4 linked regions of the Homo sapiens genome follow. The protein of the gene in region 2 interacts with the protein of the main gene of each other region in a pairwise test. Each region holds a gene or a part of one and is shown on either strand. Other genes may lie near its edges.

Evidence for each region.
Region 1: the proteins of ENTPD3 (region 2) and CREB3L1 interact in binary tests that used the Homo sapiens proteins (3 or more experiments, as listed by UniProt).
Region 3: the proteins of ENTPD3 (region 2) and STX2 interact in binary tests that used the Homo sapiens proteins (3 or more experiments, as listed by UniProt).
Region 4: the proteins of ENTPD3 (region 2) and GPA33 interact in binary tests that used the Homo sapiens proteins (3 or more experiments, as listed by UniProt).

The regions. Positions count from the first base shown.
Region 1 is NC_000011.10:46,280,660-46,287,684, reverse strand, and holds part of CREB3L1 (cyclic AMP-responsive element-binding protein 3-like protein 1), read right to left. Parts: intron 1-7,025.
Region 2 is NC_000003.12:40,382,376-40,390,200, reverse strand, and holds the start of ENTPD3 (ectonucleoside triphosphate diphosphohydrolase 3), read right to left. Parts: upstream 3,018-7,825; 5' UTR 2,940-3,017; exon of another isoform or gene 2,810-2,939; intron 2,156-2,809; 5' UTR 2,144-2,155; coding exon 2,104-2,143; intron 1-2,103. UniProt on the Homo sapiens protein: Has a threefold preference for the hydrolysis of ATP over ADP.
Region 3 is NC_000012.12:130,829,240-130,836,264, forward strand, and holds part of STX2 (syntaxin-2), read right to left. Parts: intron 4,904-7,025; exon of another isoform or gene 4,753-4,903; coding exon of another isoform or gene 4,627-4,752; intron 1-4,626.
Region 4 is NC_000001.11:167,052,378-167,059,402, forward strand, and holds the end of GPA33 (cell surface A33 antigen precursor), read right to left. Parts: intron 6,051-7,025; exon of another isoform or gene 5,930-6,050; intron 3,473-5,929; coding exon 3,353-3,472; intron 2,735-3,352; coding exon 2,599-2,734; intron 2,090-2,598; coding exon 1,957-2,089; 3' UTR 459-1,956; downstream 1-458. UniProt on the Homo sapiens protein: May play a role in cell-cell recognition and signaling.

The sequences.
Region 1 (7,025 bases), on a different chromosome or scaffold from region 2:
TATTATGTATTACATGCCTGTACCAAAATATCTCATGTGCCCCATAAATATCTAACCTACTATGTACCCACAAAAATTAAAAATTGTCCAGGTGTGGTGACTTATGCCTGTAATCTTAGCACTTTGGGAGCCAAGGAGGGAGGATCGCTTGAGCTCAGGAGTTCAAGACCAGCCTGGGCAACATGGCAAAAAAAACATCTTTACAAAAAATACAAAAAATTAGCCAGACATGGTGGTATGTCCCTGTAGTCCTAGCTACTCAGGGGTTTGAGGTGAGAGGATCACTTGAGTCCGGGAGGTTGAGGCTGCAGTGAACTGTGTTTGTGCCACTACACTCCAGCCTGGGCAACAGAGTGAGACCCTGTCTCAAAAAAAAATTTAAAAACCAAAACAATAAAAACAGCAGTGGCAACTATTGTTTATAGAGGGTTTATGGTGTACCAGGCCCTCTGCAAGAATTTCTAATGGAATTCTCTTAAGAACCCTATGTTTTACCATGAACCCTACTTTTGGATGAGGAAAATAAGCTTGGAGAGGTTAAAGCACCTGCCCAAGCTCACACAGGTGACAAGTGGGAGGCCCCAGGTCTAAGCAGTGCTGAAGACGTCCCGCCTCAGGCAAGGATCACTTCCCCAGCACTTGCCTCATCATCTGCCATCTGACCTGTGGACCCACTGTCTGCACACGTTGAGCCTGGGAGTACGCACCTGGGAAGTCTTGGGACTTTCCTGTTTAAAATCTCCCCAGAGTGGGGTGGATTCAGGGTCTACAGCTCACCTCTGTCCCAAACTCATGCAGCTTTGAGAGACCAAGATATTCAGAACCGAGTGTGTTTTCTTTTCTTTTTCTTTCTTCTTTCTTTCTTTTTCTTTTTTCTTTTTGTTTGTCTGTTTGTTTTTTGAGACAGAGTCTTGTTCTGTTGCCCAGGCTGGAGTGCAGTGGTTCAATCTCGGCTCACTGCAACCTCCGCCTCCTGGGTTCAAGCAGTTCTCCTGCCTCAGCCTCCTGAGTAGCTGGGATTACAGGCTCCCGCCACCACGCCTGGCTAATTTTTGTATTTTTAGTAGAGACGGGGTTTCACCATGTTGGCCAGGCTGGTCTCAAACTACTGACCCGCCTCAGCCTCCCAAAGTGCTGGGATTACAGGCATGAGCCACCATGCCCGGCCCTGAGTCTGATTCTTAAGCTGGGTAAGTTTCCATGTATTAATTTTATTATACTTTATAACTGATAGATATACAGTCTATATATTCTACCAGTGCACAAGATATCATAATAGAAAAGGCCATGATGATAAAGTGAAAGGGAGAGATGGCATTTATGCTAACATTCACGATTTGAGTAATCAAATGAGTGAACGAATGAAGCAATCTACTTTAAAAAAGAGGGCCATCAAAGCTGGAAGTGTAGAAGTGTCCTTTCTTTTACTATCTATCCACCCACCTATTCATTCCTCTATCGTCCCCACCCTACTCCATCCTGCCTTCCTTCCATCCATCCAATAAATAAACATTTCCTGAGCACTCAGTCATTATAGCTGTACCTAGGGAATAGCCGCAAATAATTGACTGACACACCCTGCTCTCAAGGAGCCCTCAGTTTAGTTCAGAAATGAGGAGGCCAAGGCCCAGAAAGGGAAAGTGATTTGCCCAGGGTCACACAGCAAGTGAGGGAAATGAGGTAAAGAAGGGTGAGGGTATTCCAGGTGGAGGGGAACCCATGGGCAAAGGCTCAGACCTGTCTGCCTCCAAAGCGAGCCCCTGTCAATCACTGCCTGAAACCCGCCTCCTGGCTCTCCATGAAGGCCTGAAGAGCCTGCCTCACTCCATCGCTACTTTCATTTTTGTTATTCTTTTGGAAGGGGAGGAGGAGCCAGTGGCTGCTGCTGTCCAGCTGTTATGTCGGACCGCACATCCCAGCCCAGATGTGTCAAACTCTCTGTGATGGGTGAAGTGGCTTCTGGGCCACGAGCCACGAGCCAACGGCCAAGGAAGCGGCAGTGAAGGCTCTGTCCCAGGGGAATTAGGGGAGGAGGCACACTGAACCCGGCGGCAGGGAAGCCCATGGTTGCTCCAGCTATCAAACTGGCCTTGTAGACAATATGGTGTGTCTAGGTGGTGGGGATCAAGATCTTTGACATTCCAAAGAAATCAATACCTTTGACATATTTCCTCTGAGGGTCAGAGTCCTGGGGCATTTCCTGCCTCTCCCAGCTTCTCCTGAACCAGACAATCCCACCCCCACACATTCCCCAATCCTGGTCCAGGGTCCTGCCATTCAGTCTGGCTTCCCCAGGGCTGCTCAAGAGGGTTACACAGAGTTCCAGCTCACAGTCTTGACTTAACTCCACCCAAATATTCCTCCTCCATCCTGCCCCCAGGAGTGCTGAGACTTCCAGAGAAACAGCCTGTTCTCCAGCATCTGGAGCTGGTTTCTTGAGGGAGGTTCAAGGGCAAGCCAGGTTCCAGAGAGAGATGCTCCAGGAGGGCCTCGGTACCAGGACTCGCACGAGGCACATGATACAGGGAGAAGACACAAAACAGGGATGTCCTTTATGCTCCCCTCTCCTGGTGCAGTAGCCAGGCCAGGCCAGGGCAGACAGAAACAGAGTCTCCTGAGGAGTCCTGGGAGCTGCAGAGAGCAAAGATCCAAGTCCCCAGAAGGGCTGGGGAACAGCATCCTGGGGGTGAATCTGATAGGGTGTGAAATGGGATGTGGGAGCTTATTCAGGGGATCTGGTTTTGCCCATAAAGCTCTAGGCATCCAAGGTGCCCTAAGGATGGGAGTGGGTGAGGATGAAGACAGGGACCCTGTGATATGAAAGATCCTGAATTTTCCTTGCTCTAGAGGGGAAATCTCAAACTAGAACAATGAGAGAACTTGCTTGTAGCTTCTTCTTGCTCCCCTCTTTGACTCTCCATAGGACTCCTGCCCTTGAGCAGAGTGCACAATGGATAATAATGCCTATACGTGTTCAGTAAAAGGAACATGGCCCCAGTCCCTGTGGAAATGCCTTTTTTTTTTTTTTTGGAGATGGAGTTTTGCCCTTGTTGCCCAGACTGGAGTGCAATGGTGCGATCTTGGCTCACTGCAATCTCCACCTCCTGGGTTCAAGCGATTCTCCTGGCTCAGCCTCCCAAGTAGCTGGGATTACAGGCACATGCCACCATGCCTGGCTAATTTTTTTGGTATTTTTAGTAGAGATGGGGTTTCACCATGTTGGTCAGGCTGGTCTCAAACTCCTGAACTCAGGTGATCCACCTGCCTCAGCCTCCCAAAGTGTTGGTATTATGGGCATGAGCTACCATGCCTGGCCAGAAAAGCCTTCTAATAACTCCTTTGCCACTAAGGAAGAGGGAAATTGGGGCAGCATGTGCAGAGATCACCTTCTGAGAAAGCTTTCATGACCTGTAGCCTGGCTCAGCCTCCTGCCATGCTCTGCTCCATCATGGCGCCCACCATGGTGTTGATACTGCCTATTTCCCTCTCTGTCTCTCTCATTCGTCCGCGATTGACTGGAGGGTCAAGTGTGTTTTCTTCATCTGGGTTACCCTGGCACCAGCATAGATGTTCCTTCAGTGCCCAGTTGCTGAAGGAATGGACATGTGTATTAATGAATGAGCAAGTGAATTCCCAGCTGGTCCAGGGAAGCCGGAGGGACCTCACAACATATCGGGGCACAGACAGCACTTCTGTGGGACCCAGCATCCCCACCACCCTAAGGGATGGCCAGTCCAGGATCCTGAAAACCCCAGGATCCCTTCAGGAATCATAAGTACACCTCTTGAACACTTAGATCTGATTTTTTGGGTCTTGCTCTGTTGCCCAGGCTGGAGTGCAGTGGCGTGATAATAGCTCACTGCAGCCTTGAACTCCTGGGCTCAAGTGATCATCCCACATCAGTCTCCTAAGCAGCCAGGACTTCAGGTATGTGCCACCATGCCTGGATAATTTATTTTTTATTTTTTGTAGAGACGGAGTCTTTCTGTGTTGCCCAGGCTGGTCTCAAACTCTTGGCCTCAAGTGATCCCCCTGCCTCCGCCTCCCAAAGTACTGGAATTACAGGTGTGAGCCACCACATCCAGCCTGGGATTTTTTTAAAACAATTTTTCCCTTCCCTTACAAGGATTGCCCCAGTCTAAAGTAATTTTCTCTACAAATATAGTAAGTCCTTGAAATAGAGCAAAGTTCACTACAATGTGACCCAAACTTGACTTCTGTTCTATGCTCAGGCCCCTTCTCAAATAAAAGTGAGCAAAACTCCATTCTCTATGGGGCTGGTAAAAAAAAGTGACTGCCTCATGCTCCTGTGGTACTCTTTCTGTTTGGTCTGCTTTGTGCAGTAAGGTGTCACAATTTTTACTTTCCTGCTTTTTGTGATAGTACAGACCATCTGAAAAATACTGTTTTTCGTTAATTCTACAAAAATATTACTCCACATTTTATGTAATTGGAAAATTTATTTTTAAATTTGTATTATTATTATTACTTTTAGAGACAGGGTCTGGCTTTGTTGCCCAGGCTGGAGTGCAGTGATGCCATTATGGCTCACTGCAGTCCCAACCTCCCCAGCCCAAGTGATCCTCCCTCCTCAGCCTCCTAAGTGGCTGGGACCACAGGCATATGCCACCATGCCCGGCTCATTTTTTTTTTATTTTTTGTAGAGACGAGGTCTCCCTATGTTGCCCAGACTGGTCTTGAACTCCTGGGCTCAAGCAATCCTCCTACCTTGGTCTCCCAAAGCATTGAGATTACAAGCATGAGTCACCGCAAAGGAACATAATTGGAAATTTTTGACTGGGCATATTTATTGCATTATTGTAGAATTTTACTACATTGAGCATCTATTTTGTCCCATGTGACTGTGCTAGGTTTATGTCAATGCACAAAACTGATATGGACTCTCCTCTTATGGAACTTACTTTCTCGTGGAGGAAATAGACAATAGGCCATTAAAATAATTGCAAACTGGGTTAAGGGCTAGAAGATATCAAAAGACTAAAACAGAAAAGAACAGGGGGGTCCCACTTTAGGTAGTCAGGGAGCGTTCCCTAAGGAGGCAATATTTGAGCTGGGATCAGAAGGCTGAGATGGACAGACTGGGGGAAAAGCAGTCCAGATGACAGGAACAGCATGTGCAAGGGCTCTGAGGCAGGGCTGGAAAAGGCTTAGTCTTAAATTGGGTGAGTATGGATCCAGGAGTCCTAGAGCAATCTGAAGAAGAAACTGGGGAAAACGGAAGCCCTAGAGACAGTGCTCAAGAGTGACACCTGAGCCACAAGTTCAAATCCCCTGTGGGTCAGCCAGCTGTAGACTATTCTAGACCAGGGGCTGCAGAGGCCTGTGCAGTAGGGGGATGGCTCAAGGTAATGAGAACTCATTAAAAACCATGGAGAGCCCTTCCTGGACCCCAGAGACAGTGCAGGGTCTGCAGGACCTCGATGGCTGCAAATAGATGGGCTTAAGGACACTTTTCCCTCTTCTCTAAGAATGTGGGGTCTGGTTTGGGCCCCTTTTTCTTCATCCATCCATCCATTCATTCATCCATCCATCGATTTATTCATTCATCAACGGTTGTTAGGCACTGGGATACAGCAGTGAACAAGACAGACCAAGCCCCTGACTCAAGGAACTGTTCCCTCAACACTGGGGGAAGCAAAACCCAAATCAAACCTCTGCTCAAAACGAACTTAATGTTTTGATAGAGTAGGTATCAGAGGTCTCCTTTCTGAATAGGCACCCTGAGATTTGGGCTCCTCCAGTAGGTTTTTCATTAGATCTTTTCTAGCAGATTGCACTCTGAGACCAGAGTGCCTTAGCACTTCTGTCCTCTTTCCTGTTGGTGAGAACTTAAACAGAAACACACACAAATCTCCCCTTTTAAGGACTGTTAAAGGCCCACCCACAGACATAGGAACACCCAAACACACATACTTCTCTAATCTCCCTAAATCTCCCGAAGGCTGGGGGTGGGGGTGCCTCTCTGCTTCCCAGTTAGCTCAGGAGAAGCCAGGCTAGGCGTGTGGGGAGTAGCGATCAGCCTTAGCCCCCACCGCCTCCCCGCAATGCTGGGCTGGTCCCTGGGTCCCCGTCACTCCCACACCTGGCCTCCCCAGCTGCAGGGAGTAAACGGGTGTGCTGGGCAAACATCCTTGCAGCTTCCTGCTGCTCCCCTCTGAGAAAACAGACCTTTTCTTCCTCCTCCTTCTCCTCCCCACACCCTCCCAGCTGGGGCTTCTCTGGGATCCCAAGCCAGTTCCCTCTAGAGAAGCCAGACATCCCTTCCCCTTAGCCAGAGGAAGGAGGGGACAGCACACAGACCTAGTGTTTCCATCTGGAGAAACGACCTGCTCTCCCTCTGGTCCTTTATCCCAGTTCTTGGAGCCCAGACCCTCTCTCTCATACTGGCCAAGGGGCTGAAGGACCACAGAGTACAGTGGCTCAAGGGTGGCCACATCAGAAACCATGGGAGAGCGGGAGGGGCAGGGAGGAGATGCCCCCACATGGGACAGGAAGGGCAGCCCCCTTCTGAGGATCTCTGAGAATCGCATAAACAGAATTGCAGCAACATGAAGGTATCCTCATAGAAAGAAAAATAAGGCAGCCCAGCCACCTCCAAACACACTTGTCTTGACTTTGTGTACTCACTCTCCTGTCTGTCCAAGTGCATGCGTATTTCTTGCATAGTTGTTTTCAGGGTGAGCATACATTTTGCATTTTGCACAGAGCAACAGAGCACACATGATTTCCACATGATTTATGGCCCGTATCTGGATTTTTAAGGAGGATAGCGAATATTCTGCTCTCCATTTTCCAGACTGAGAGGCACACAGACGCCATCCCTACCCATCCTTAACCCTGGAAACATTTTCCTATCCTCATGCAGAATGAAGAAGTTGGGGGAAGGGTTGGAATGGGATCTCAGCTGGAAAGAACCTCGGATATGGAGATGGAGACCCCAGAGAAGGAAAGTGACTTGCTATGTTCACACAGCAACTCGTAGCTGAGCAATTCTCACTATCACG
Region 2 (7,825 bases):
TTGGTAAAACTATTGGGACATCAACATAAATGACAACCAAATGGTTGAAATATGATGAACACTAATAGAAAGATCACTAGATTCATCGAATTCCAATATATATCTAATCAATTGGCTATCTAAATGTAAATTAATTAAAATAAAAAAATGCAGTCTCTCAATCTTACTAGCCACATTTCCAGTGTTCAATAACCACATGTGGGCTAGTGGCTACTATATTGGACAGTGCAGCCATATAACATTTTCATCATTATAGGAAGATCAATTGAACAGCAATTGGATAGATCCTGTCTTATTCCAGAACATTATTCCTAGATCATTATAACCTATGCTTTACCCCTCCATTATTTCTGTAAGCCATTTTCCCAGAAGAATAACAGGGCATGTCTATGCGCCCACGATATAATTAGATTCAGCCCCCAAATTCAGTCACATCACAACATTTGCTACAGGAGGGCAGTCACGCAGTAGGTCTTCATGGCTCAGAACAGCTAACTCTTTCCATCTCAACTGATTCCCCTGCAGTGTAGCTGCAGTCACAGACACTTCTTGGTGTCAAAGTTGGTCACTTAACACCTTAATCCTCCTACCTTGTCATTGAAAGTGTAAACTGGTACAGCATCAATGGAGGGCAACTTGTCAATATTTATGAAAACTGCAAATAAGCATGCCATCTGACTCACAATCACTCTTTTGGGAAGTTATCCCACAGAACTAGCTCCACATGTGTAAAATGACTTAGACACAAGGTTACTCATTACAGAATTGTGGGTAATAGCAATGGAAAGGAGAGCCAACTGCCATGGAGTTGACCTGCAGAGCATGTAAAGAGGTCCTGTATCACTTTTCTGTGATTCCAAATAAAAGTACAGGAACCAGTTAATCCACAGAGGCAAACTTTTGCATTAGCTTTCAAAGAATGCATTTGTCAGTGTTAGTTATAGAAGTTTAAGGGATTTTTTCCCTCTAACAAAATGGGGTAGAAATTTAATCTGCCAAGTTAAACTTGTCCTTTGGAAGGAATGTAACAGGTTAGTCTGTATGAGTGACGTTACAATCTGTGTTAACATTTCAAAGTGTTTTGGGGGAAAACCTAAAGATCAAAGGAAAACAGCTCCTCAAGTGCAATGTCCCTTTACAAAAATAAAAGTTCATATAGATTGCCCTTACTATCCTAAAATCATATCCTTTTGGAAGACAAGAATACCCAATTTAGGGGCATGACTAAAGAATGTCTATCCATGGGGGAGGAGTGTGTGATATGTATGCAGTTTCCTGACCACAGCTACGTGGCTGGCCTCCTAAGTCTTCTGTGTTTCAGCAGTTTTCAAGTAAAAAGCTATGATTACCTTAAGCAAACTCTTGTCCTTGCAGAAAAGCTTATTACAAAGCAAAATGGATGAGACCAGGTCTTACTCATTTAGGAAATGCAGCCTAGAGCTGTGCTGTCATTAGGGCTGGACAAACATGGTAATTGCAAGGTACCTACCTGAGCTTGGAGAAGCCAGAGCCTTCTGGGCTTCCACATGAGCAACTCCAAAAAGTGCTCTAGAGGCAGGCGGGGCAAGCTTAGAAGTGTGTGTGTGTGTGTGTGTGTGTGTGTGTGTGTGTGTGTCTGTGTGTGTGTGCCTTCCAGTGTGAGAAAATCCTGCACTTGTGCCTGCAGTATCAACCATAACAACACTGACTCACAGTGAGGGGTGGGGGTGTTGTAGGCACTGTGCCAGCAACATTTGGATGGGAATACAGGAAAGATCCAAGTACTGTACAATTGATCACAAAATCAACAATACAGTATTCTAAAGCAAACGTTACACACAGCTAGCTAAGGGAAACCACAAGGGCCAAATTAATGGATTATACAAACCGGAAAAACCATTTAAGTGAAACATGCATGTTAGTCCTTGTTTTGTGTGGCTTTGATGAAAAGCATTACTTTTATTTGAGGAATGCCGGTGTTGAAACCCAGCTGAGTACTGAGTCTCAAACCAATAAAGTTAAACAATCATTTGCAGGGGATATGGATGAAAAACTGTAGGCCGAAGCTGGGGTTCTCTTGCGATTTGGCAAAACCACGCTTGCTACCTGCTGAGAGATACTAACCTGCTTGCTCACATGGTTGGCGGGTCAGCACAGTGAACATCTTTTCTCCTAGCTGCAGGTGAGAGAATACAGGATGTCAGTAAGTCCACCGCCCCGGCCTCACAAGTTTAAAGAACGAGCCCAGGTTAAGACAAAACCCATTTTACTTCCTCCAAATCAAAACCTCATCCCGGGAAAGGTAAGCCGAACCCCAGAACTTCAGAGACAGCCCCAAAGCTGGAGCTTAAATTTCATGTCATCTCCCCAAATGAAAGGAAATGAAAAATGGATTTGCTGAAACTTCAAACTGAAAAGGTTTTCCGAAAAAAGGTCTTTTTCTGCAGATTGTTCCACCTGTACACACACCCAAGAGAGAACAAATCTTCCCCCTATTATTAACATTCACAAAGCTGAGGCGGGGCTTTTTTTCAGAACATGAGCAAGGAAGGTTTTTGTGTGTTCATGGATCGCGAGCCTGGAGCCTCTCTAAAGCCCCGGGAAGGGAGTCTTTAGCTGCTGGCTGGAAATTGCAAAGGGATGTCGGGGCCCTGGGATCCAGCCCCCACCAGGATCTGGGGTCACCTCTCTGGACTGCGTCTCTGCATAGCCGCAGGCATCTAAGCGCCCAGCACATCTGCGGATCCATGCAGGCTGTCGGTAAAGACGCGCCCACCCGTCGTGGGCATGACAGGGACCACCTCCCAGCCGCCCAAGGATTTGGGGCTACCGTGTTTCAGTCTCTTCCTCTGGCCCTCTGAGGAAATCCGATTTTGTTTCTTTGCCTCCCAACTCTCAGTCTCACGCAGCACCCCCGACTCCTTCCTCGGCAGCTCAGGCGCCGGGTCCCCTGATCTTACCTGTGCGGAGCCGATTCGGAGAAGGCGACTAGCGCTGCCGCAGAGGCGGCCCGCGGCCAGCGCTAAGGAGGTGTCAGCTCAGACGCCGGGAGGCGGCGCCGGGTATAGCGGGGCGGGGGCGGGGCGGCCTCGGCCTGGGACCGCCCCCCCCGTCCGTGTCAAGGCCAAGTACCTCTTCACCTTCTTTTCTGATTGCTCTCACCTTCACACCCAGCCCTCGATGGAAGGGGAAGGGAGAGAGAGCGCGCCTCTTGCCAAAAGACCGGCCCTGCCTGCCCAGAGAGCCTTCTGTCCCCCTCCAGGTCGAAGCCAAACAGCACTTCACCTTTCCTCTTTCAGTTCCCTCCACACTCACCTGTACCTGAAGTCGGAGAGGAGGGAGCCAGGCCTTGCCCTGAGAACCCACCGGAGCCTATGTGGGCGAGGGGGAAGGGAGGTGTCTATTATCTGCCTCCTTCTTGCATCTGTGTCAAGACCAAGAACCTTTTGATCTGTCTTCTAGTTACCTCCATTGTCACCCCAACCCTAGGTGGAGGGAAAATGGGGACAAGGCCAGGCAGGGACTGGGCACTCTGTGGGTGTGCATGACCTTATGTGGTCCCCCGGTGGGTGGCTCCTGTGCTCCGTCTCTCCACGGGGTGGAGTAGAGTCAAACACCTGTAATGTTGGGAGTGAGGCCAGTAGGCAGGCTGGCCCCTAGGTCACTTGGGCCTAAAGCACAAAGTATGGCAGGCACATTCCCTTTCACACTTAGCAGAACTGCCTTGGCCATGCCCAGGGCCATTCTTGCTGTTTACTGAGCAATGCTCTGCCCTACCCCATTTAATATGGATGTCATAAGGCCAAAAACTCAAGACAAGTACAGCCCGGAAGAGGCAAAACAGAAAAGATAACAAAAAGGCAGCATGTGGGCTGCCGTGATCCAAACACCCCAGGAGTCTGTCTCAGTGTACAGCAGCAGGCAGCCTCCCGGCTCCTCTGAGTGACCCCAGAGACCCTTGGAGTGATCCCAGCAAGAGGCCTAAGCAGGCCCTGTTTGACCATCCCTCCTTATGGTTCCTGCATGTCTGGAAGGAAGAGCTGAGTCCCTGGCTATACCCTGCCATAGCCTGCTTTCTCCTAGAAATCCACTAATTTTCTGTCCTGTGCAGGTGGGGCCAAAGCCCCTAAGACAAGAAGTCCTTAAGATAGGAATGCCCCTGCTTTGATACCTCTGAGCCCAGAGAGGTGGGCCCCAAGCCTGAGTTATGTGTGTGTGCCTGTGTGTGTGTGTGTGTGTGTGTGTGTGTGTGTGTGTGTGTGCCCGCGCGCAAGAGCACCATGGTCATTCACCCAGAGTTGGATAGAGGTGGACCCCATTGGGGGATTGGGACAGGGTCTGCACTGGGGGTGTCAGACATTCAGTGAATACTTGCTGAATTAAAAGACTTGTTTTCTTTGAAAGCTGTGGGACAATGAAACATAAGGCATATGGCTGGCAGCTGGGGGTCCGTCTGCACCCAGGGGGCTGTAAGTACACAAACAGCTGCTGGCAGTGCACCCGGACCTGAGCTCAGTTAGATAGCCCCAGTGGGTGAATGACTAACCTTAGCATCCCCAGTGACTTCCCAGGGGCTGGGAAAAGGTTTCCAGGCCTAATGGGCCTTGAAAGGCAGTTAGTGCTAGTGTATAAAAATAACAGAGATCAGTCCATGCCAGCTTTCCTCTCTGCTTGCATCAACCTACAGACCTTGTAAGTGTGAGCATCAGCCTCCTTTGAGAGCCCTGTAGTCTCCAATTCTCCTTTTATTTTTCCAAGCTTTTCTGGAAACTCTGCTCCAGGCACTGTGTCAAACTCCTTTGCAGCTTCCAAAGTAGACCTAGTCATTCAAAGGCATTTCCTCATCCACCTTCCACATGCAAGAACACACACACACACAGACACACACACACACTCCTTTGTGAGTTTTCCTGATTATAAAATAATACAGATTTGCCCACCAGCTATCAAAACATATTGTAAAGCCACAGTAATAAAAACAGCCTGGCTTGGGCACAGGAATATACTGAGAGATCTAAAGAACAAAAAAGATAGGCCACAACAGACTATTGGATATAGGATTATAAGATAAAGAACAGGTTGAAATAACATATTATTCAATAACTGGTATTGAAACAACTGGCTCATTTGGAAAAGGATTCTAATTACTCATCACCCACAAAAATAGATTTTAGGTGGTTTAAAAATTTAAATGTATAAAATAATTTGACATACTAAAAAATGTAGAAGAACATTTTTATCATCCTTGGGAAAGAACAGTCTCTTCTACTATGCAGTCAAAGCAGGAAGAGAAATAAAGTCAACAAATTTGAATCCATGAAAATGAAAAATGACTGAATAGAAAGACACCACCCACTGCAACCCCCCCCCACCAAAAAAAAGATAAATTCTCAGGAAATACCTAAGAATGTGACAGTAAAGAGTTTAAAACCGTAAGATATACTAAAGTCTATAGAAAAATATGAATATCTGAAATAGAAAATGGGCAAGTCACATGCATTGGCCAATTTACAAAAGAAATATGAATGGCTGACTAACATGGCAGAGATGCTTAATCTCATTATTTACCAAAAATTGTCAACTAAAACTTTGGTATATTTAAACAAGATTAAAAAAAAACTGATTAGACTTGATTAGCTTAGCAAAGTTTAAAAAGATCTAGGCCAGGCACAGGGGCTCACGCATGTAATCCTAGCACTCTGGGAGGCCGAGGTCAGCTGATCACCTGAGGTCATGAGTTCAAGGCCAGCCTGGCCAAAATGGTGAAACCCCGTCTCTACCAAAAAATACAAAAATTAGCCAGGTGTGGTGGTGCATGCCTGTCCCAGCTACTCAGGAGGCTGAGGCACGAGAATTACTTGAATCTGGGAGGTGGAGGCTGCAGTGAGCTGAGATGCTGAGATCATGCCACTGCACTCTAGCCTGGACTATAGAGCAAGACCCTGTCTCAAAAAAAAATAGCAATAATAATCAGTGGTGCTTGTGTTGGAGAAGGTGCCAGGAAACAGGCCCTCTTGAAGCATCTGATGCGTGCCATGTCCTCCCACTTCTCTAGACAATTTTGCTGGTTCCTGCTCCTTTCCTGGGAGTTTCTCAAGACTCAGTCTCCAGGATTATTTTCTTCTCATTCTGTATTCTTTTCCTAGGTAATCTCATCCATGCCTACGTCTTCTGTTTTATTCACAGAAGCTCTCAAATACAGGGTTCAGGCTTCCCCTCTTGATCTGTAGACCTAGAGAATTGTGTTTTTCATCTTTCAAGTGTCATATAGGCACCTCACATTTACAGGGTTTCAAGCAGAGCTCCTTATCTTCCCCTACCAAACCATCAACTCCTCAAGCATTTCTCATCTCGGCACTCCCCACTCATCCAGGTGAGCAAGCCAGAAACCTGAGGGTTGCCTTTGATAGTCTTTCCCCCATTATACACGATCAATCAGTCACTAATTACTGCTGATTTTAGCCTCTTAATCGTCTCTGCAATATGTACTTCCTTCTCTCTCAGCCACCATCTTGGTCTGAGCCAGGATTTCTCAGTTGGAGCACTATTGATATTTCAGGTCAGATGATTGTTGAGGGAACTGCCCTGTATATTGTAGGATGTTTAGTAGCATCCTTGACCTTTCCCTACTAGTTGCCAGTAACATCCTCCCACACATGGTGTGACAACCAAGAATGTCTCAAGACATTGCCAAGTGTCCTCAGAGGAGTAAAATTTCCCTGGTGAGAACCACTGGTCTAAGCTACCATGCACACTTTTCTGGATCTTGGCAACGGTCTCACACATCTCTCTGTGTCCATTTTCTTCCTCTCTGATCCATTTTCCCAAGCCAACAGGCCCCATCTCTTCAAAACCCAGATCTCTCTGTGTCAAAACTCTCTGTAAAACACTCTTCTATGCTGTCCATTTCTTAGTGGATTCACAATCAGATTCTCAATGTGACCTGGAAGGCCCTGCAAGGTATATTCTCTATCTCTCTTTCCAGTCTCTATTAACCCATACTACTTCTTACTTCATGCTCTGAAGACAAACCAGCCTTCTTTCAGTTTTTCAAATATATCATGTTTACTCCTGCCATAGGACCTTTGTACATTATTTTACTAATTAGCACTTGTTTATACTTTTTTTCTCACTTCAGTCATTTCACTGATACTTCCCCGGCATCCCCTAATCTGGATCATACATCCAAACTGGGTCAAGTCCCTAAATTATGTGCTTTTAAAGCAGGCATTCCTTTCTTTCAGCTAGAGTTTCATTACAGTCGTTGTTGAGCAAATGACCCCTGTTGCTTATCACCAAAGCAGCAGTCCCAGGATGTTAACTTACTGTATGGTTTGGAGATGTCCATGTCACCAAGAAAGATGATTCACACAGGCACTGGATGGAAAACACTTTACTCATATAGAGAAGAGATGGAACAGGATTAGCTTCAGTGATGACTGTGTGCCCCCATGGCAGTGGGTCTTGACCTCTAGCTGATGCAGGGAGATGGAATGCATACACTGCTCTGTTGCTGCAGGTGAAGATCCTCAACCCATCCCCCTGGGGCCAGAACTATAGAAAGCTGGAGGTGCACTTGATGGCCATTGACCCATGCGCTTAAGAACAAAGAAGTACACGTGAAACCCGGAACGGGGAAAGTTATTACAAAGCAGAGATGTGCCTAGCACAGGCTATGATGACTCTTTATCTCTGTGCAAGAAAATGTTCCAGGCCCAAGGCTGCTCTTATGTAACGATGCAGGGGGTGAGAAGCTGTGCACAACTGCCTTTCATAACAGGAATTCTCTCGTTAGTCTTTCTCTGTCCACTAGACAGTAAACCACGTGCAAGCAGAAATCATGCTT
Region 3 (7,025 bases), on a different chromosome or scaffold from region 2:
CTATTACCATGTTGACCCTCTTAAAAAGAGTAAGAGCCGTCCTTTACTTCCAGCTCACAAGAGTTGGCAATTTGAAATACTCTACACACATGTTCTCATTAATTTTATGGTCCCCATGTTGCCAGTGAGGAGGCTGAAACACAGTGCAGGGATCACTCGCAGGGACGGCAGAGCAGAAAACGGCCTGTGACTGTGATTCCACACACCCTGCTCTAACAAGCACACTCTACCCTGGGGGAAGATGGGATGCGGGGAGGAGCTGTGCTGCGGAGCCCCACCAGCCATGCAGGCCAGGTGGCCAGGTCCCACAGACTCCCCTTGCGGGGGACCCCCTCTCTTAGAAAGAGGATCTACTCCCCTGTGCGTGCCAGCCCCGCCTCTCGGGCCCACAGCCTGCTCCCTCCCTGTCTCCAAGTGCTCACTTGGGCATTAAATCCCACTAGCTGGGCACGGGGTCTCACTGCTTCCCTATGGCTATCTGCCTTGTCTTCTCAGCTGTGCGGTCTCAGAGGCGCAGGGCCAGGAATGATGGAGTGAAGCATCACCGCTTTAAGTCATTGACTGACTGTGCATTCACCCAAATACCCATGGAGGGGGTGGGGAGGAGGGGTGGAGAGCTGAAAGTGAGCTGCAGACGGCCCTTGTGGCCCTGAGCCCCGGGCCATAAAAGTGCTTCACCCCACCCTGGAGGTGCCACATGGCTCTCAGGGCATCTCACACCTCCCTGCTCTGCCAGGAACTTTAGGTTCTAGATTCAAAGTCACCTCATTTTTGTTTGTTTGGGAAACTGTAAACATATACAAAAGTAGAAGGAATACTATGGTGAGCCCTCAGTGTCGCCATCACCCAGGCTCAACAATGGTCAAGCCACAGCCTGTCTTGTTTCAGGTGGACACCCACCACTTCCCACTACTTCCTACCCCCCACACCACAAGACCATCGTGAGGCAAATCCCATGAGGCAGATGCTACTGTGGAGGCTGCACCTGCAGCTCCAGGAAAGAGGCTGCACCCATCTCAATGCTCCCCAGCGCCACGCTTCCCTGTGAAAGCAAGCTGCTTTCCCATGGTGACCGTCCCATGCTGTGTGATGCACCCCCCACAGTGGCGTGGCGTAAACAACCAGAGGCTCAACCCTCCTCTCCCATGGTGACCGTCCCATGCTGCGCGATGCACCCCCCACAGTGGCGTGGCGTCAATCCTCCTCCACTCTGAACCCACGGCACGGGCGGATTTTTGTTCCAAGTCATTCGCTTGCTGGTAAACAATTTGTTTCTCTCCCTGTAGACCAGGAAAGATCCACATGACTGGAATATGTTTCCTCTATTGTCTTATTTCTTATTCTTAAGCCTTGACTTATATGTCTTATTTCTACCTGGAAGTCTCAAAACTGATTAGATAACAGGAAACAGACCCAATAATACTGTCTTTGCTTTTCCATTCAAAAAAACAAAACAAAACAAAATGACCAAAGCAATCTTTTTGGCTTTATCCCTAAGCTACATTATTCTTGTCTTCAATGAATGTCCATGTTCAGTCTTTCAGGCTGAGATAGTGCAACAGCTGTACAACAGCCATGATTATGAGAGGGTATTTATTGTAAATAACCAAACTGCTAGTGGCAAACATTTACTAAAAGCCAGGGAATACTCTCTATATGACATACTTGATTTCCCAAGTGTCGAAGTACAGGATAAACATTTAAATATCAACATTCCATTTCGGTTAAATGTTAACAGAAGTCTCCTTAAAAGTAGCATTATAGTAAAATCACAACTCTCCCTGTGTGAATACTATTGTCAGAAACAGGTAGCAGGTAGCTTCCTGGTTTAGAGACTATTTAACAGAGAAGAGTAATTTGCCATTGGAACGATCATCATTTATAATTCAATAGAAGCTGAACTACCACAAATGGCAGAATCCAAAGCTGGACAGAATCCTGGCTTTCTTCTGCCTGTTGTTCACACACACATGCTAAGGACCTTCCATACAAATAATAATTGTGGGCAAATAAATTATAAACCTTGACATATACACAGTGGTTTTAGTACTTTGTTGCTAGAATACTTTGACTTACTTTTCACAATTAAATCACTTGGGTAAAAAAAGAAAAGAATACTTGTAATTAAACATAGGTAAAAGCTGGCCGGGTGCGGCAGCTCATGCCTGTAATCCCAGCACTTTGGGAGGCTTAACTGGGAGGATCACTTAAGCTCCAGAGTTTGAGACCAGCCTGGGCAACATGGTGATACCCCATTTTTGGTACAAAAAATACAAAAATTAGCCAGGCGTGGTGGCTCACACTTGTGAGGATCCCTTGAGCCAGGAGACTGAGGCTGTAGTGAGCAGTGATGGTGCCACTCCAGCCTGGCGATAGAGAGGGACTTTGTCTCAAAAAACAAATAAATAAATATGTAAATGCTGACTCTGGGCCAGTTTGTAAATATGGTGCTAAACGTAACCTACTTTCTCATATTTTGTATGGTGAATTACACTTTTATACCTATAATAAAATGTTATACTTTTTTATTTTTTTGTATTTTTACTAACACTTGTTTCCATTATTATTATATAAATACTTTTTAACAGGCATTTAGACTTTATGTAAATAGTATTACACTTCTGCAATTTTTTTTTTTTTTTTTTTTTGGAATCAGGGTCTTGCTCTGTCACCCAGGCTGGAGTGCAGTAGCGTGATCACAGTTCACAACAGCTTCAACCTCCTGGGCTCAGGTGATCCCTTTGCCTCAGCCTCCTGAGTAACTGGGACTACAGGCACACATATTTTTTTAGAGATGAGGTCTGGCCATGTGGCCCAGGCTGGCCTTGAACTTCTTGGCCCAACCAATCCTCCCACCTTGGTCTCCCCACGTGCTGGTATTACAGGCATGAGCGACTACACCCGGCCTGCCTCTGCAATTTAATCATTTTTTTTTTTCCTCTCAGCTATACATTCATATTTCTCCACTCAGCATATATTGCTCTAGTGTTAGGTGAAACCACACCATATGGTTCAACCTCATACATTCATCTTACTGCTGCATACACTCCATTATATAAACAGCCATGAGGTAGCCATCCAGGCTCCTATTGTGCCTAATATTTTTCCATTACCAACAATATAACGAACCACAGTTACAAGGCTGCACATGCATGTCAGGATGGTTTTCTGGAACATACACACACATGCAGAGAGAGGACCACCGAGCCATGGGGTTTAAGCGTCTTCAGCTTCACTAAACAATGCCAAATTGCTCTCCAAAGCACTTGCAATAAATTGGATGCCCCCAGCATGGCACATGGACATGAGACACTGCCAGGCTAATCTTGAGCTACCAAGGGCCCACCACATGATCTCGCCCCAGGAATGAGGATCAGAACTGACATGATGAAGCCTAGAGAGCGTGAACTAGAGAGCATTTAAACTTGGGGGCGGGGGCAGCCCCTTACACCAGGCCGTGGAGACGAAGAGAAACCCTCAGGATCTCGCTCCAGCCAACCTCCTCAGCTCACTCACGTCTCACCTCCGCCCACTGCTGACCATCCACTCACTACCGACAGCATCTTTCTGTCCCTTGCATGACTTCGTTCCCAACTCTGGGCCTCTGGACTTGCTGTGCCTTCTACCCAGGGCACCCTCCCCCAGCCCTGTCCACAGCCGCTTTCTTATCCACAGCTCAGCTCACGGGGTGGCCCCCTGACCCACCCGGCCAAGGCAGCCACACCCACACCCTCGCCCTGCTTATTCCTTCACAGCAAGGATTGCGAAAGACACTTGATTCATCTGCTCAGCTGCTGTCTATCTCCCAGCTGCAGGTTCCACAAGAGCAAGGACTTCTGTCTTTTCACAACCCAGGCATTCTGCCCACAGCAGTGCCTGGCACCCAGCCGCCAGTCAGTGATGACCAGGTCAACAAACGAGTGAATGAATGAATGAAGAGCAAGAGAAGGGCAGACACAGACAAGGGGGAGGAGAGTGGGAAAGTACACACAAATGACAAACGTCAACAAACGGAAACAGAGACACACACACAGACTAAGACCCCGCAAGCACAAAACGGCCACGACACAAGGACAGGAAGGACCTCAGTGGCTCGCTCCGTCCTAACTCCATCCCTCATGAGGGCTGATGGTACTACGTGCCCTCAAAGCCTGGGAGAAATCACTCTACCTTTTTTTTTTTTTTTTTTGAGATGGATTCCCACTCTGTTAGCCAGGCTAGAGTGCAGTGGCAGGATCTTGGCTTACTGCAACCTCCACTTCCCAGGTTCCAGCTATTCTCTCACCTCAGCTTCCCAAATAGCAGAGATTACAGGCACCTACCACCACCCCCAATTAATTTTTGCATCTTTAGTAGAGACGAGGTTTCCCCCTGTTGGCCAGGCTGATCTAGAACTCCTGACCTCAAGTGATCCTTCCACCTTGGACTCCCAAAGTAGTGGGATTACAGGCGTGAGCCACCCCACCCAGCCCATTCTGCCTTTTAATAAATCTCCCTTTTCTGCTTTAGCTGATGGGTTTCTGTCCCTTTTAACCAAAAGGCCTTGAAGACAACAGATTCCAGTGGCATCTACATTTTTCTTACCATGGGCATTTTCAAATGGAAACAGACTGATTCAATAAATACCTGGCAGGTGCTCTGGATCAGGCACCATGCAGAATACTGAGGCTTCAGAGCACAAATGACAGTATGCATCTGTCCTGAAAAGGCTGAAGCACTGGGGGAAGGGTGCAGGAAAAAACAGGACTGCATCTGTGTCCAGAATGCCCCAAGACAAGATGGGCCATCTGTGGGAACATGCGAGGAAAGGGAGGCAGGAAGGCTTCCCAGTGATGCCTAACCTGAGACTAAAAAAGGTGCAAGGCTACATGTGGTGGCTCACGCCTGTAATCCCAGCACTTTGGGAGGCCGAGGCGGGTGGATCACCTGAGGTCGGGAGTTCGAGACCAGCCTGGCCAATGTGGTGAAACTCCACTTCTACTAAAAATACAAAAATCAGCTGGGTGTCATGGGAGGCTGAGGCGGGAGAATTCCTTGAACCCTAGAGGCGGAGGATGCAGTGAACTGAGATTGCACCATTGCACTCCACCCTGGGCAAGAAAGCGACACTCTGTCTCAAAAAAAAAAAAAAAAAAAAAGGTACAAGGCAAGAGAGAAGGCGCAGAGGGAGAAGTCCAGTGGTTCAGACAAAGGGAGCAGCACCTGCAAGGGCAGGGAGGAGGGGCGTATCAGTCCGGAGGCAGGAGCAAATCCTGCCACCACAAGGCGATAGATCTGGGCTCCTAGGGAGCTCTTCTATGGATCAGTTATTTCTTACAGTTGCTACTCCTTAAATTCAGAATAGACCTCAAGTTAAAAACAAGAAGTGATTAATCTGTAAAAACATATAGATTTTGCTCTTCAAACTAAAGGACATGTTTAGATATACAAATGAGTAAACCTATTATAATTAAGAATAGAGAAACTATAGACTCCAACTGTAGGAACTGTTTGTATGAGAACACACAAAATATAAAAATTTGGCAGGATTGCATAAGTTATGACATTCTAAACTATAAATATATGCATATATAAAATTATGTTCATATATTAAACTCTTAGTATTTTAAGTTCCAGTGAAGTTTTTTAATCTTCTTATTTTATGAATTGGAACCTGCATCTTCACTATACAACATTCTGCACTACGTGGACAAACATGAGCTGTCAAAAAATAACTTTTAAAAATATCTGAGCAGTGTTTTCCGCCCTTTAAGAAATTATATTTGCAGGCCAGGCACGGTGGCTCACGCCTGAAATCCCAGCACTTTGGGAGCCTAAGGTGGGCAGATTGCTTGAGCTCAAGAGTTGAAGACCAGCCTGGGCAACACAGCGCAACCCCATCTCTATAAAAAATACAGAAGTTTGCTGGGTGCAGCGGCACGCGCCTGTGGTCCTAGCTACTCAGGAAGCTGAGGCGGGAGGATGGCTTGCGCCTGGGAGGTCAAGGGTGCAATGAGTAATGATCGTGCCCCTGCACTCCAGCCTGGGCGACACAGTGAGATCCTGTCTCAAAGAAAAAAAAAAGAGATTTGCAATTCATCACCTTGAAACCAGGATGAAAAATAACGTTCTCATTTCTTTTAGGTCTACTAAGAACACCACACAGCTACTGTGTATTTATTGTTTATTATCATGCAAACAATTCCCACAGATGAAATGTGTGGTTTCTCTATTCTTCACTATAATAAATAGATATATCATATATATGTATCAAATATAAATACATCAATGTTCATAAACTTTTTTTAAAAAGTAATCAAAATACGTTTGGGGTGGTTATCTTATAGAATAGCTATTCCATTTTGCTTACGTCCTACAGTGAATTTCATTACACCTCGGTCACTCTTCCTTCCCAGGCTGCATGCATCCCCACCCACGCTCAGTTCACTGCTGTGTCTCTCTGCACCCAGCACATGATCTGCTAGAGGCCTGACATTCAAGTACCTGCTGGATGGGCGAGTCTTTTACTTTCTGTAAATCAGAAATATCTTTCTGGATTTAGAGTGTCAGAGATCTGGACCAAGTCACGCAAACTTTCTATGCCCAAATGACTGGTTGCTCAAAAACAGCATCACTGGTTAGAAACTACATCTGTCAGTACAGATTGTATTGAGCAGATTACTCTTTAAGCCCTGTCCACGTAACTGTCAGAGGCACGTTCTTCACAGGAACAAGCATCAGCAGCTAAGAAAAGAAACTTCATGGAAGCATCACAAATACTTTGTTAATCAGACATTGTTGATGAGGCATTTTAACCAACAAAATATTCAACTTTACCTAGAAAAAAACACCAGCCATTTACAAGCACGGTTGTGAGTACACATTCAACTACTCTAAGAACTACTGGGAAAGGACACATTTCCTGGGGCGGGGCGGGGGAGGGGAATTAAACTTGTATCTGGTAACTTTAAGATGGGTTTTTAAATATTAAAAGTTATTAAACTTCAAATTCAGTTTTAACTTACTATTTTATACTAGGGAGAAGG
Region 4 (7,025 bases), on a different chromosome or scaffold from region 2:
ACCTTGAATATCTCGCAGGAGAGTCCATGTCAAAGCCAAGAGCCCACAGCGGAGCGAAGTTGCCTTGGAGGAGGAAGCGTCACAGTTCTCTGTGACAGAACAAGAGGACTGCCCCGCCCCTTTCTCAGAAGGGGCATCATAGGAAGCAGAACTGGCTAGAGCATCTCCACCATCTTCCTTCAAGCACGTGGACCGACACCCAGGCCTCCTGGTGTCCTGACACTGCAGACTCCTGGAATATACCTCCACCAGCAGGCAGGAATCTGTCCTATTCCCAGCAACCACTAGAGGCACTGCCTGACCCTACTGCGGCCACAAGCAGAGGGACCCCAGGATTCTCAAATCTGTTACCTTGTCTCACCTCCCCTAGGAAGCAGAAGAGTGCTATGGTGAGTAGAGATGATCCATGAGACCCAAGCTTTATCTTACTGCAAACAAAATCCACATTAAAAAAGAAATAAGAATTTCCACCCACAATTTTATTATTACTGAAAGCATTTGGAATGAAGCAAAGGATTTAACAATATATATAAAAATATACATTTTTTAAAAAATCGCAAGTAGACAATAGATTTATGGAATTATTTTTCTGATCATCCAGAAAAGATAGCAATAGTAAACTGCAGTTGGGTGAGACCAGCCACTGGTCCATGAGACCTAAGCAGCCCTAACGCTGCCTGAGCTCTCAAGAGTAGAAGAAATGCTCGACAAACAGAAGGAGGCTGTGGGAGGGCAGCAGGACAGCCCCACCAGAAAACCAGAGCCCAAATGGGCTGGGCAGGGCCAGGGCTGAGGTATCGGGATGCAGGAACAACCAGGAACCCCATGTGGGTTGAGGAGACATGCCAATTATTCTGGCCTGGAGAGGAATTACCAGGACACAAGAACTCAGACCATCTGCAAGCAAGCTCCCTTGTGTGTGTTCACTTTAAATCAATTCGTGTTTAACTCACTGAATGAATACGTGGGTTTGGGTGGGAATCATCCCTGTGTCTACGATCATCTCAAGGAGACCAGAGAAGGGAAGGCACAACCAATCAAAGCAGTTTCCCCAATTAAGCTTAAGTGCCCACTAGGATGGGCGCCAGCTACTAGGGCTTCAGGGAAAGCAAAAGCCATGAGGCCCAGGCCCTGCCCCAAGGAGCTGGCGCTCTAATACAGTGAGAGCACTCGCTCAGAAGACTGTGCCTTGTGGCCCATGATTGGACGTGGGACAGAGTAACAGGATTGTTTCCACGTATGTGGACAATTAGGATAGGGTTAGAGAAATCCTTGTGATTTGAGATGGGCCTGGAGGGACAGGTACGATATTGACAGGCAGAGATGGAAAGTGTGTGGGCAAAAGCTCCCCAGGGCCTGTGCAGCAGGAGTGGGAGGTGGCCTTCCCAGGAGGGTTTGGAACATACTGGCAGCTACGGGAAGTGAGGTTGGAAAGGGAGTGGGAGCTGGAGGCCAGGCCAATGCAGGGCCCAAGCATACTCACTTATTCTTTCATTCATTCAAGAAAGATGTGTGGAGTGCAAACCCTCCACCTGGTGCCCCTCCAGGTGCTGGGCACACAGGTGAGCAGGACAGCCCCCACCCCCCAAGGCTGGCATCGCCTCCCTGGAGAGTTCTGAGTGGGAGCGCCCCATGCTCAGCGCTGTGCTTCCAGGAGCTCCTGCCAACTACGAGGGAAGTGGAGGCTGCAGCCTGGTCTTGAGTGAGGGCCAGGCCCGCACCAGGTGTCACAGCCAGGAGGGGTTACTTCACAGGACAGTGAGGTCAGCAGGATCAGCACAGGGACCCCCTTACCAGGCCAGCCATGTTCCCCACAGCTGACACTGGGGAAGAAATGTCCCCATCAATGTCTGGGATGGAGGGACAGGAGAACAGGGCTTAGAAAGGAGAAGGGAGGCCAGGAAGCGGGAGAATGAACCCCTAACCCTTCCTCCGCCGCCCTCTGCTGCTGGCCTGTCACTGGTCGAGGTGGTCCGGGGATTCACGCCCAGTGCTCCTCTGCTCTTCTTGCCTGTAGTCATCCTCCTCCTCCCTCTCTCTGGAAAGTTCTCTTAGCTGCTCTGGTGGCTCCTCATAGGCTTCCCGGTTCCTGCAGGGCAGCAGGGGACAGAGGGGAAGGATTTGCTCTCAGGTGGACCCTCAAGGGAGCTGGGCCTCATGTGCATTACAGGAAGAGCAGCCTCCAGACCTCCTCCCCACCCACCAGCTGCAGAGGACACTGGGCTGAAAGGCTGGGCTGAGAGTAAAGGTGCCACAGACTTGTTCCACGCATGAGCTGAGGGGGTTACAGGAACAGGCTGGCTTTACCAGCCCAGGAGGAACTGGCCCCGTGACAGGGGCTCCAGGCCACACTTGGCTCTAGTCATGCCACAGGAAGCCCGGCCCTGAGCTCCCAGACTGGAAAACCACAGGACTGGGAGGCAGGTCCTGGGGCTGCAATGCACATTTTATGGCTTGGACAGGTCATTGTTTCATCAGCACAAAATGGGGGTGATATACCCCAAGGGGTGCTGCAAGTAGAAGAGGCTGTGAGGAATTGGGAAGCATATTTCCAGTCTCCCCAGACCCTTCCAACAGGCTACCAGCCCAGACACTCACGGCCTTGCATCCTCCTTGTCTTCAGTGTTGTCGTCCTTCCCTCGGCAGCAGCAGCAGTAGATGATGATGCCAATGATAATGAGGGCTGCAACCACGCCCACCGCGATGCCCACATACAGGGCCACGTTCATGGAGGCTGCAAGAGGACAGAGCAGCTGCACTTGCCGAGCTTCTAAGCTAGCTCCGGGTCTCCTCCCAGCCAGGGGAGCAGCAGCTACCAGCTTCTGGTAACACTCCATGAAAGGCATGGTCTTGGAGGAATGTGACCAGCCATGGCCCAGGAATATTCTTCAGGATGGAGGTGCAGACAGAGACATATGGTCCACTTCACATCTTAACACTTTCCGGGCTACCCTGGCTCTGCAAAAGTCCTCAGATGTCAGCCCAGCCAGCTCTTTAAGCTAGATTTGGTGTCTCACCCCAGAAGGATGTGGTCCAGACTCTGCGGCAGCTGCCCTGGGCACTTCCTCCACGCCCACCGAGTGGTTCCTAGGCAGGTGGGACTGACAAAGCCTCTGAGTCCTAGAAGTCAGTCCTAGGTTCCACTTCCAAACACCAGTGGAACTGGACTGGCCTCAGAGTGAGGGGAGCCTGGGACAGAGTCATCCTGCCTAGGTCACCACAGCTAACCTGCAGGTGCGTGGCCCTAGAGAGGTTCCCCTATTCCTCCTCACGGTGGTCTCAGCTGACTTTCTGGACCCCCACCAGTTATCCTGTGGCGTTTGTCAGCCCTCCCCCCGCAGGCTGCTCTTACGAGATCTGACGGCCACCGTGATGTTGCAGAACTGCGTCCCCTCCTCATTGCTGGAGGTACAGATGTAGTAACCCGATGTGTCTGTGGAGATATTCTTCAGGGAGACAGGCTGACCTGAGGCTGCAGGGGAAGAAGAGTCAGGGTGAAGAGAGGCACTACAGTGGAGTGGAGACAGCCAGGAATGGGAGGTCTGGACTCCTTGGGAAGCACAACCTCTGCCACTGAGCTTCTTCAGGCCGGAGCCCCATGTCCACCTCCAGGGCTGCAGGACGCTTAAACCAGGCAGGGCCCACAATGTGAAGTGCTCAGAATTCAGTCAGGCACCCTGGGTTTGACACCTGGCTCTGCCACTTATTAATTTGTCTTTAGCAAGTAACTCAGCTTCATTCAACCTCCATTTCCTCATCTAAAATCAGAAATAATAGTACCTGCCTCACAGGGTACTTGCAAGCATAAAATGAGGTACTAATAATAAATATAAGCCCACAACAGAATGCCTGATATGTAGTAAGTGCTCAGGAAACATAATGCACATTATGTATTACATGAAAATGCTTTCTAATCAGAAGATATTATTACTTTTATGATCTTCAGAAACCAAATCTCTTAGCTTAGACTCATATGAAAGAAGCCTTTGGAAATCAAAAACTCTGATCTCTGGATTTCTGCCATGAGAGAGGTGTGTGGGGTGTATGTGTGTGTGTGTGTCTGTGTGTTATGTGGTGTGTGTGGTGTGTCAGTGTGTGTGGTGTGTCAGTGTGTGTGGTGTGTGGTGTGTCAGTGATGTGCAGCGTGTGTGTGCTGTGCTCTGTGAGAGTAGTGTGTGTATGGTATGTGGTGTGTGTGGCATATGTGTGGTATGTGTGTATGTGGTGTGTGTAGTGTGTGTGGTGAGTGTGTGATGTGTGTGGTGTGTGTAGTGTGTGTGGTACGGTGAGTGTGTGATGTGTCTGGTGTGTGGTGGGTGTGTGGTGTGTGTAGTGTGTGTGTAGTGTGTGATGTATGTGGTGTGTGTGGTGTGTGTATGGCGTGTGTGTGGTGTGTGTGGCATGTGTAGTGTGGTGCGTGTGGTGTGGTGTGTATGTGGCAGCGTTTGTAGTGTGTGTGGTGAGTGTGTAATGTGTGTGGTGTGTGTGTGGTGTGTGGTGTGTGTGGTGTGTGTAGTGTGTGTGCTGCATGTGGTGTGTGTGGTGTGTACTGTGTGTGGTGTGTGTGGCGTGTGTAGTATGTGTGGTGTGCAGTGTGTGATGTGTGGTGTGTGGTGGGTGTAATGTGTGTGGTGTGTGATGTGTGGTGTGTGTTGCATGTGTAGTGTGTGTGGTATGGGGGGTGGTGAATGTGTGTGCTGTTGGGGTGGGACGGAGGCAGACTGTCTAGACTCTTCCTCTACATCTGCCGCCACTTGAGCAAGCCATTTAACTTCTTTGAGCTGTAGGCTTCCTTCGGAAAGCAGGAGTGAAAACACCTGATCCTCCTGAATCGAAGAGAACGGACCAGAATATCTCATGGAAGACCTTTCCCCTCAATCTATCATCCTATGAATTTCTTCATCTTGAAAGCAAGAGCTTTGTGCTTGGGCATATGTATATGTCCTGCCATCCAAGATGCTTTGTTATAACTGCTATTTTGAGAGGAGCTGGAGACCTACCTCCTCTAATTTTGCTGCAGAGCCAGCCTTGCCTGATCCCTGCTGCCACCAGGTGGTTACACGCCATCCCTAAGAGACGCTCTAAATTGTAAATACGATCCTGTCACTGCTCTGTTCAGACATTTCAGGGGCTGCCCAGCAACCACTAGACGTAATCCTCAGTAACAAGTCCAAGCTTCAGGTCACAGATCTGGCCCTGTCAATCATACCAGCTTTGCCTCTTGCCACTTGGTGCTAGGGGCAAAACCAGGGGAGTTGTCCTCTCTCCGCCCCACCGTCACTTTCCTGCAAGATTGCATCTCAAGATTTTCCTTCTCCGGATGTGCTGCTCAGTACACATCCTCAAATGTGATGTCCTTTCATCCTTCCAGCAATCCTCAATATTTCAATCTCCAATTCATGGAGTTAACTGGAGGCTTAAAGAAGTTAAGTGAACTGCTCAAGGTCACAAAATTAAGAAATTATAAAACAGGAACAAAAATCCTGTTTCAGGTCTAGAACTCCCTGGAGCCATTGATAATTTTCTTTTAAAAATTTGTGGCCGGGTACATTGGCTCACGCCTGTAATCCCAGCACCTTGGGAGGCCAAGGCGGGCAGATCACTTGAGGTCAGGAGTTCGAGACCAGCCTGACTAACACAGTGAAACCCCGTCTCTACTACAAATATAAAAATTAGCCGGGCATGGTGGTGTGCGCCTCTAGTCCCAGGTACTTGGGAGGCTGAGGCAAAAGAATCGCTTGAACCTGGGTGGTGGAGGTTACAGTGAGCTGAGATCGCACCACTGCACTCCAGCCTGAGTAACAAAGCGAGATTCCATCTCGAAAAAAATATGTATAAAAATAAAATTTTGTATGATAAAAGCAATGTATGCTCCTTATAATAATTTATAAATGATATAAAACTATTATTTCAATTCAATTCAATACAGAAAATCTTTAGCTGCTGATCACAGCTATAAACGAGATGAGGAGGGTCCCTGTCCTCTTGGTGTTTCCAGTCTCCCAAAGAAGACAGACATGAAACAATGATGGTTACAGTTCAAGATGGAGGTACTATCTGAGCTTATGGCAAGGGGTTTTAATCTCATCCAAAGGGCCAAGGAATGCCTCTTTAAAGAAGAGAGAACAAATAAAAATCATTCATAATTCCATCACCTATAAATAACACTTTGATTTGGTGCTATTTTCTTTCAGTCTTTTCACTTGTACTTTCTTCAAATTCTTCCCTTGACCCCCAGGACACTACTCTCTGGATGCTCATTCTTCATAAAATGTGTCCCCTTCTATCCTAGAATTCCACGCCTCAGTATGTTTTCTGGAACATTGTTTACATGTGATATTAACATGCGGCATGGAGAAGGAGTCCCTAAAAAAGCAAGTTTAGGAATCACTGAGTTAGGATTAAGTAATCTTTCTAAGGGCAGCACTTTCAGAGCTCCTACAATGCTGTTGAGCACTGGGAACTTCTGACAGCGGGGTGTGGTATTCATGCTCTCATTTGCTAAATGAATCGGATTTGTTATTTTTAAGAGGCATCTTGAAGGAACACACTTTAGGAAATGCTCTATGGCCCTGGGCATACTTAGGAGGTCTAGAGCTCATAACAGATCCCCACCACTTAAGAGTGTGAAGCTCGGACTCTGGATTTAGTGTAGGCAGCACACTGCAGACAGTCAGGACTTTTTTAGTTGTCAGAGTCCAGCTTTGAGCTCTAGGCCTTGTTTAGGGTGGGGAACATGGGGTTTCCTAGTCCAATGAGTCAGCGCTATCCTCCCCCAGTTCCCTGATGCAAACCGTGTGCACTGGAAGCTGCTGGGATGAACCAGTGCAGGTCTTGTGCCACAGGACCTTCTTTGATTCCGAGTTGGGGCTCCCAAGCCCCTTTTCCTTCGGAAAGGGACTAGTAATTTCTGATATCCGGAGAAAACTAATGTTTCCGCTGCAGTGGCGACACCTTGTGGTCAGAAAGGGGAATGCACAGGACGGTCATACGCTTCCCACCTTCCTCTGCTCCAGCTGTGGAGA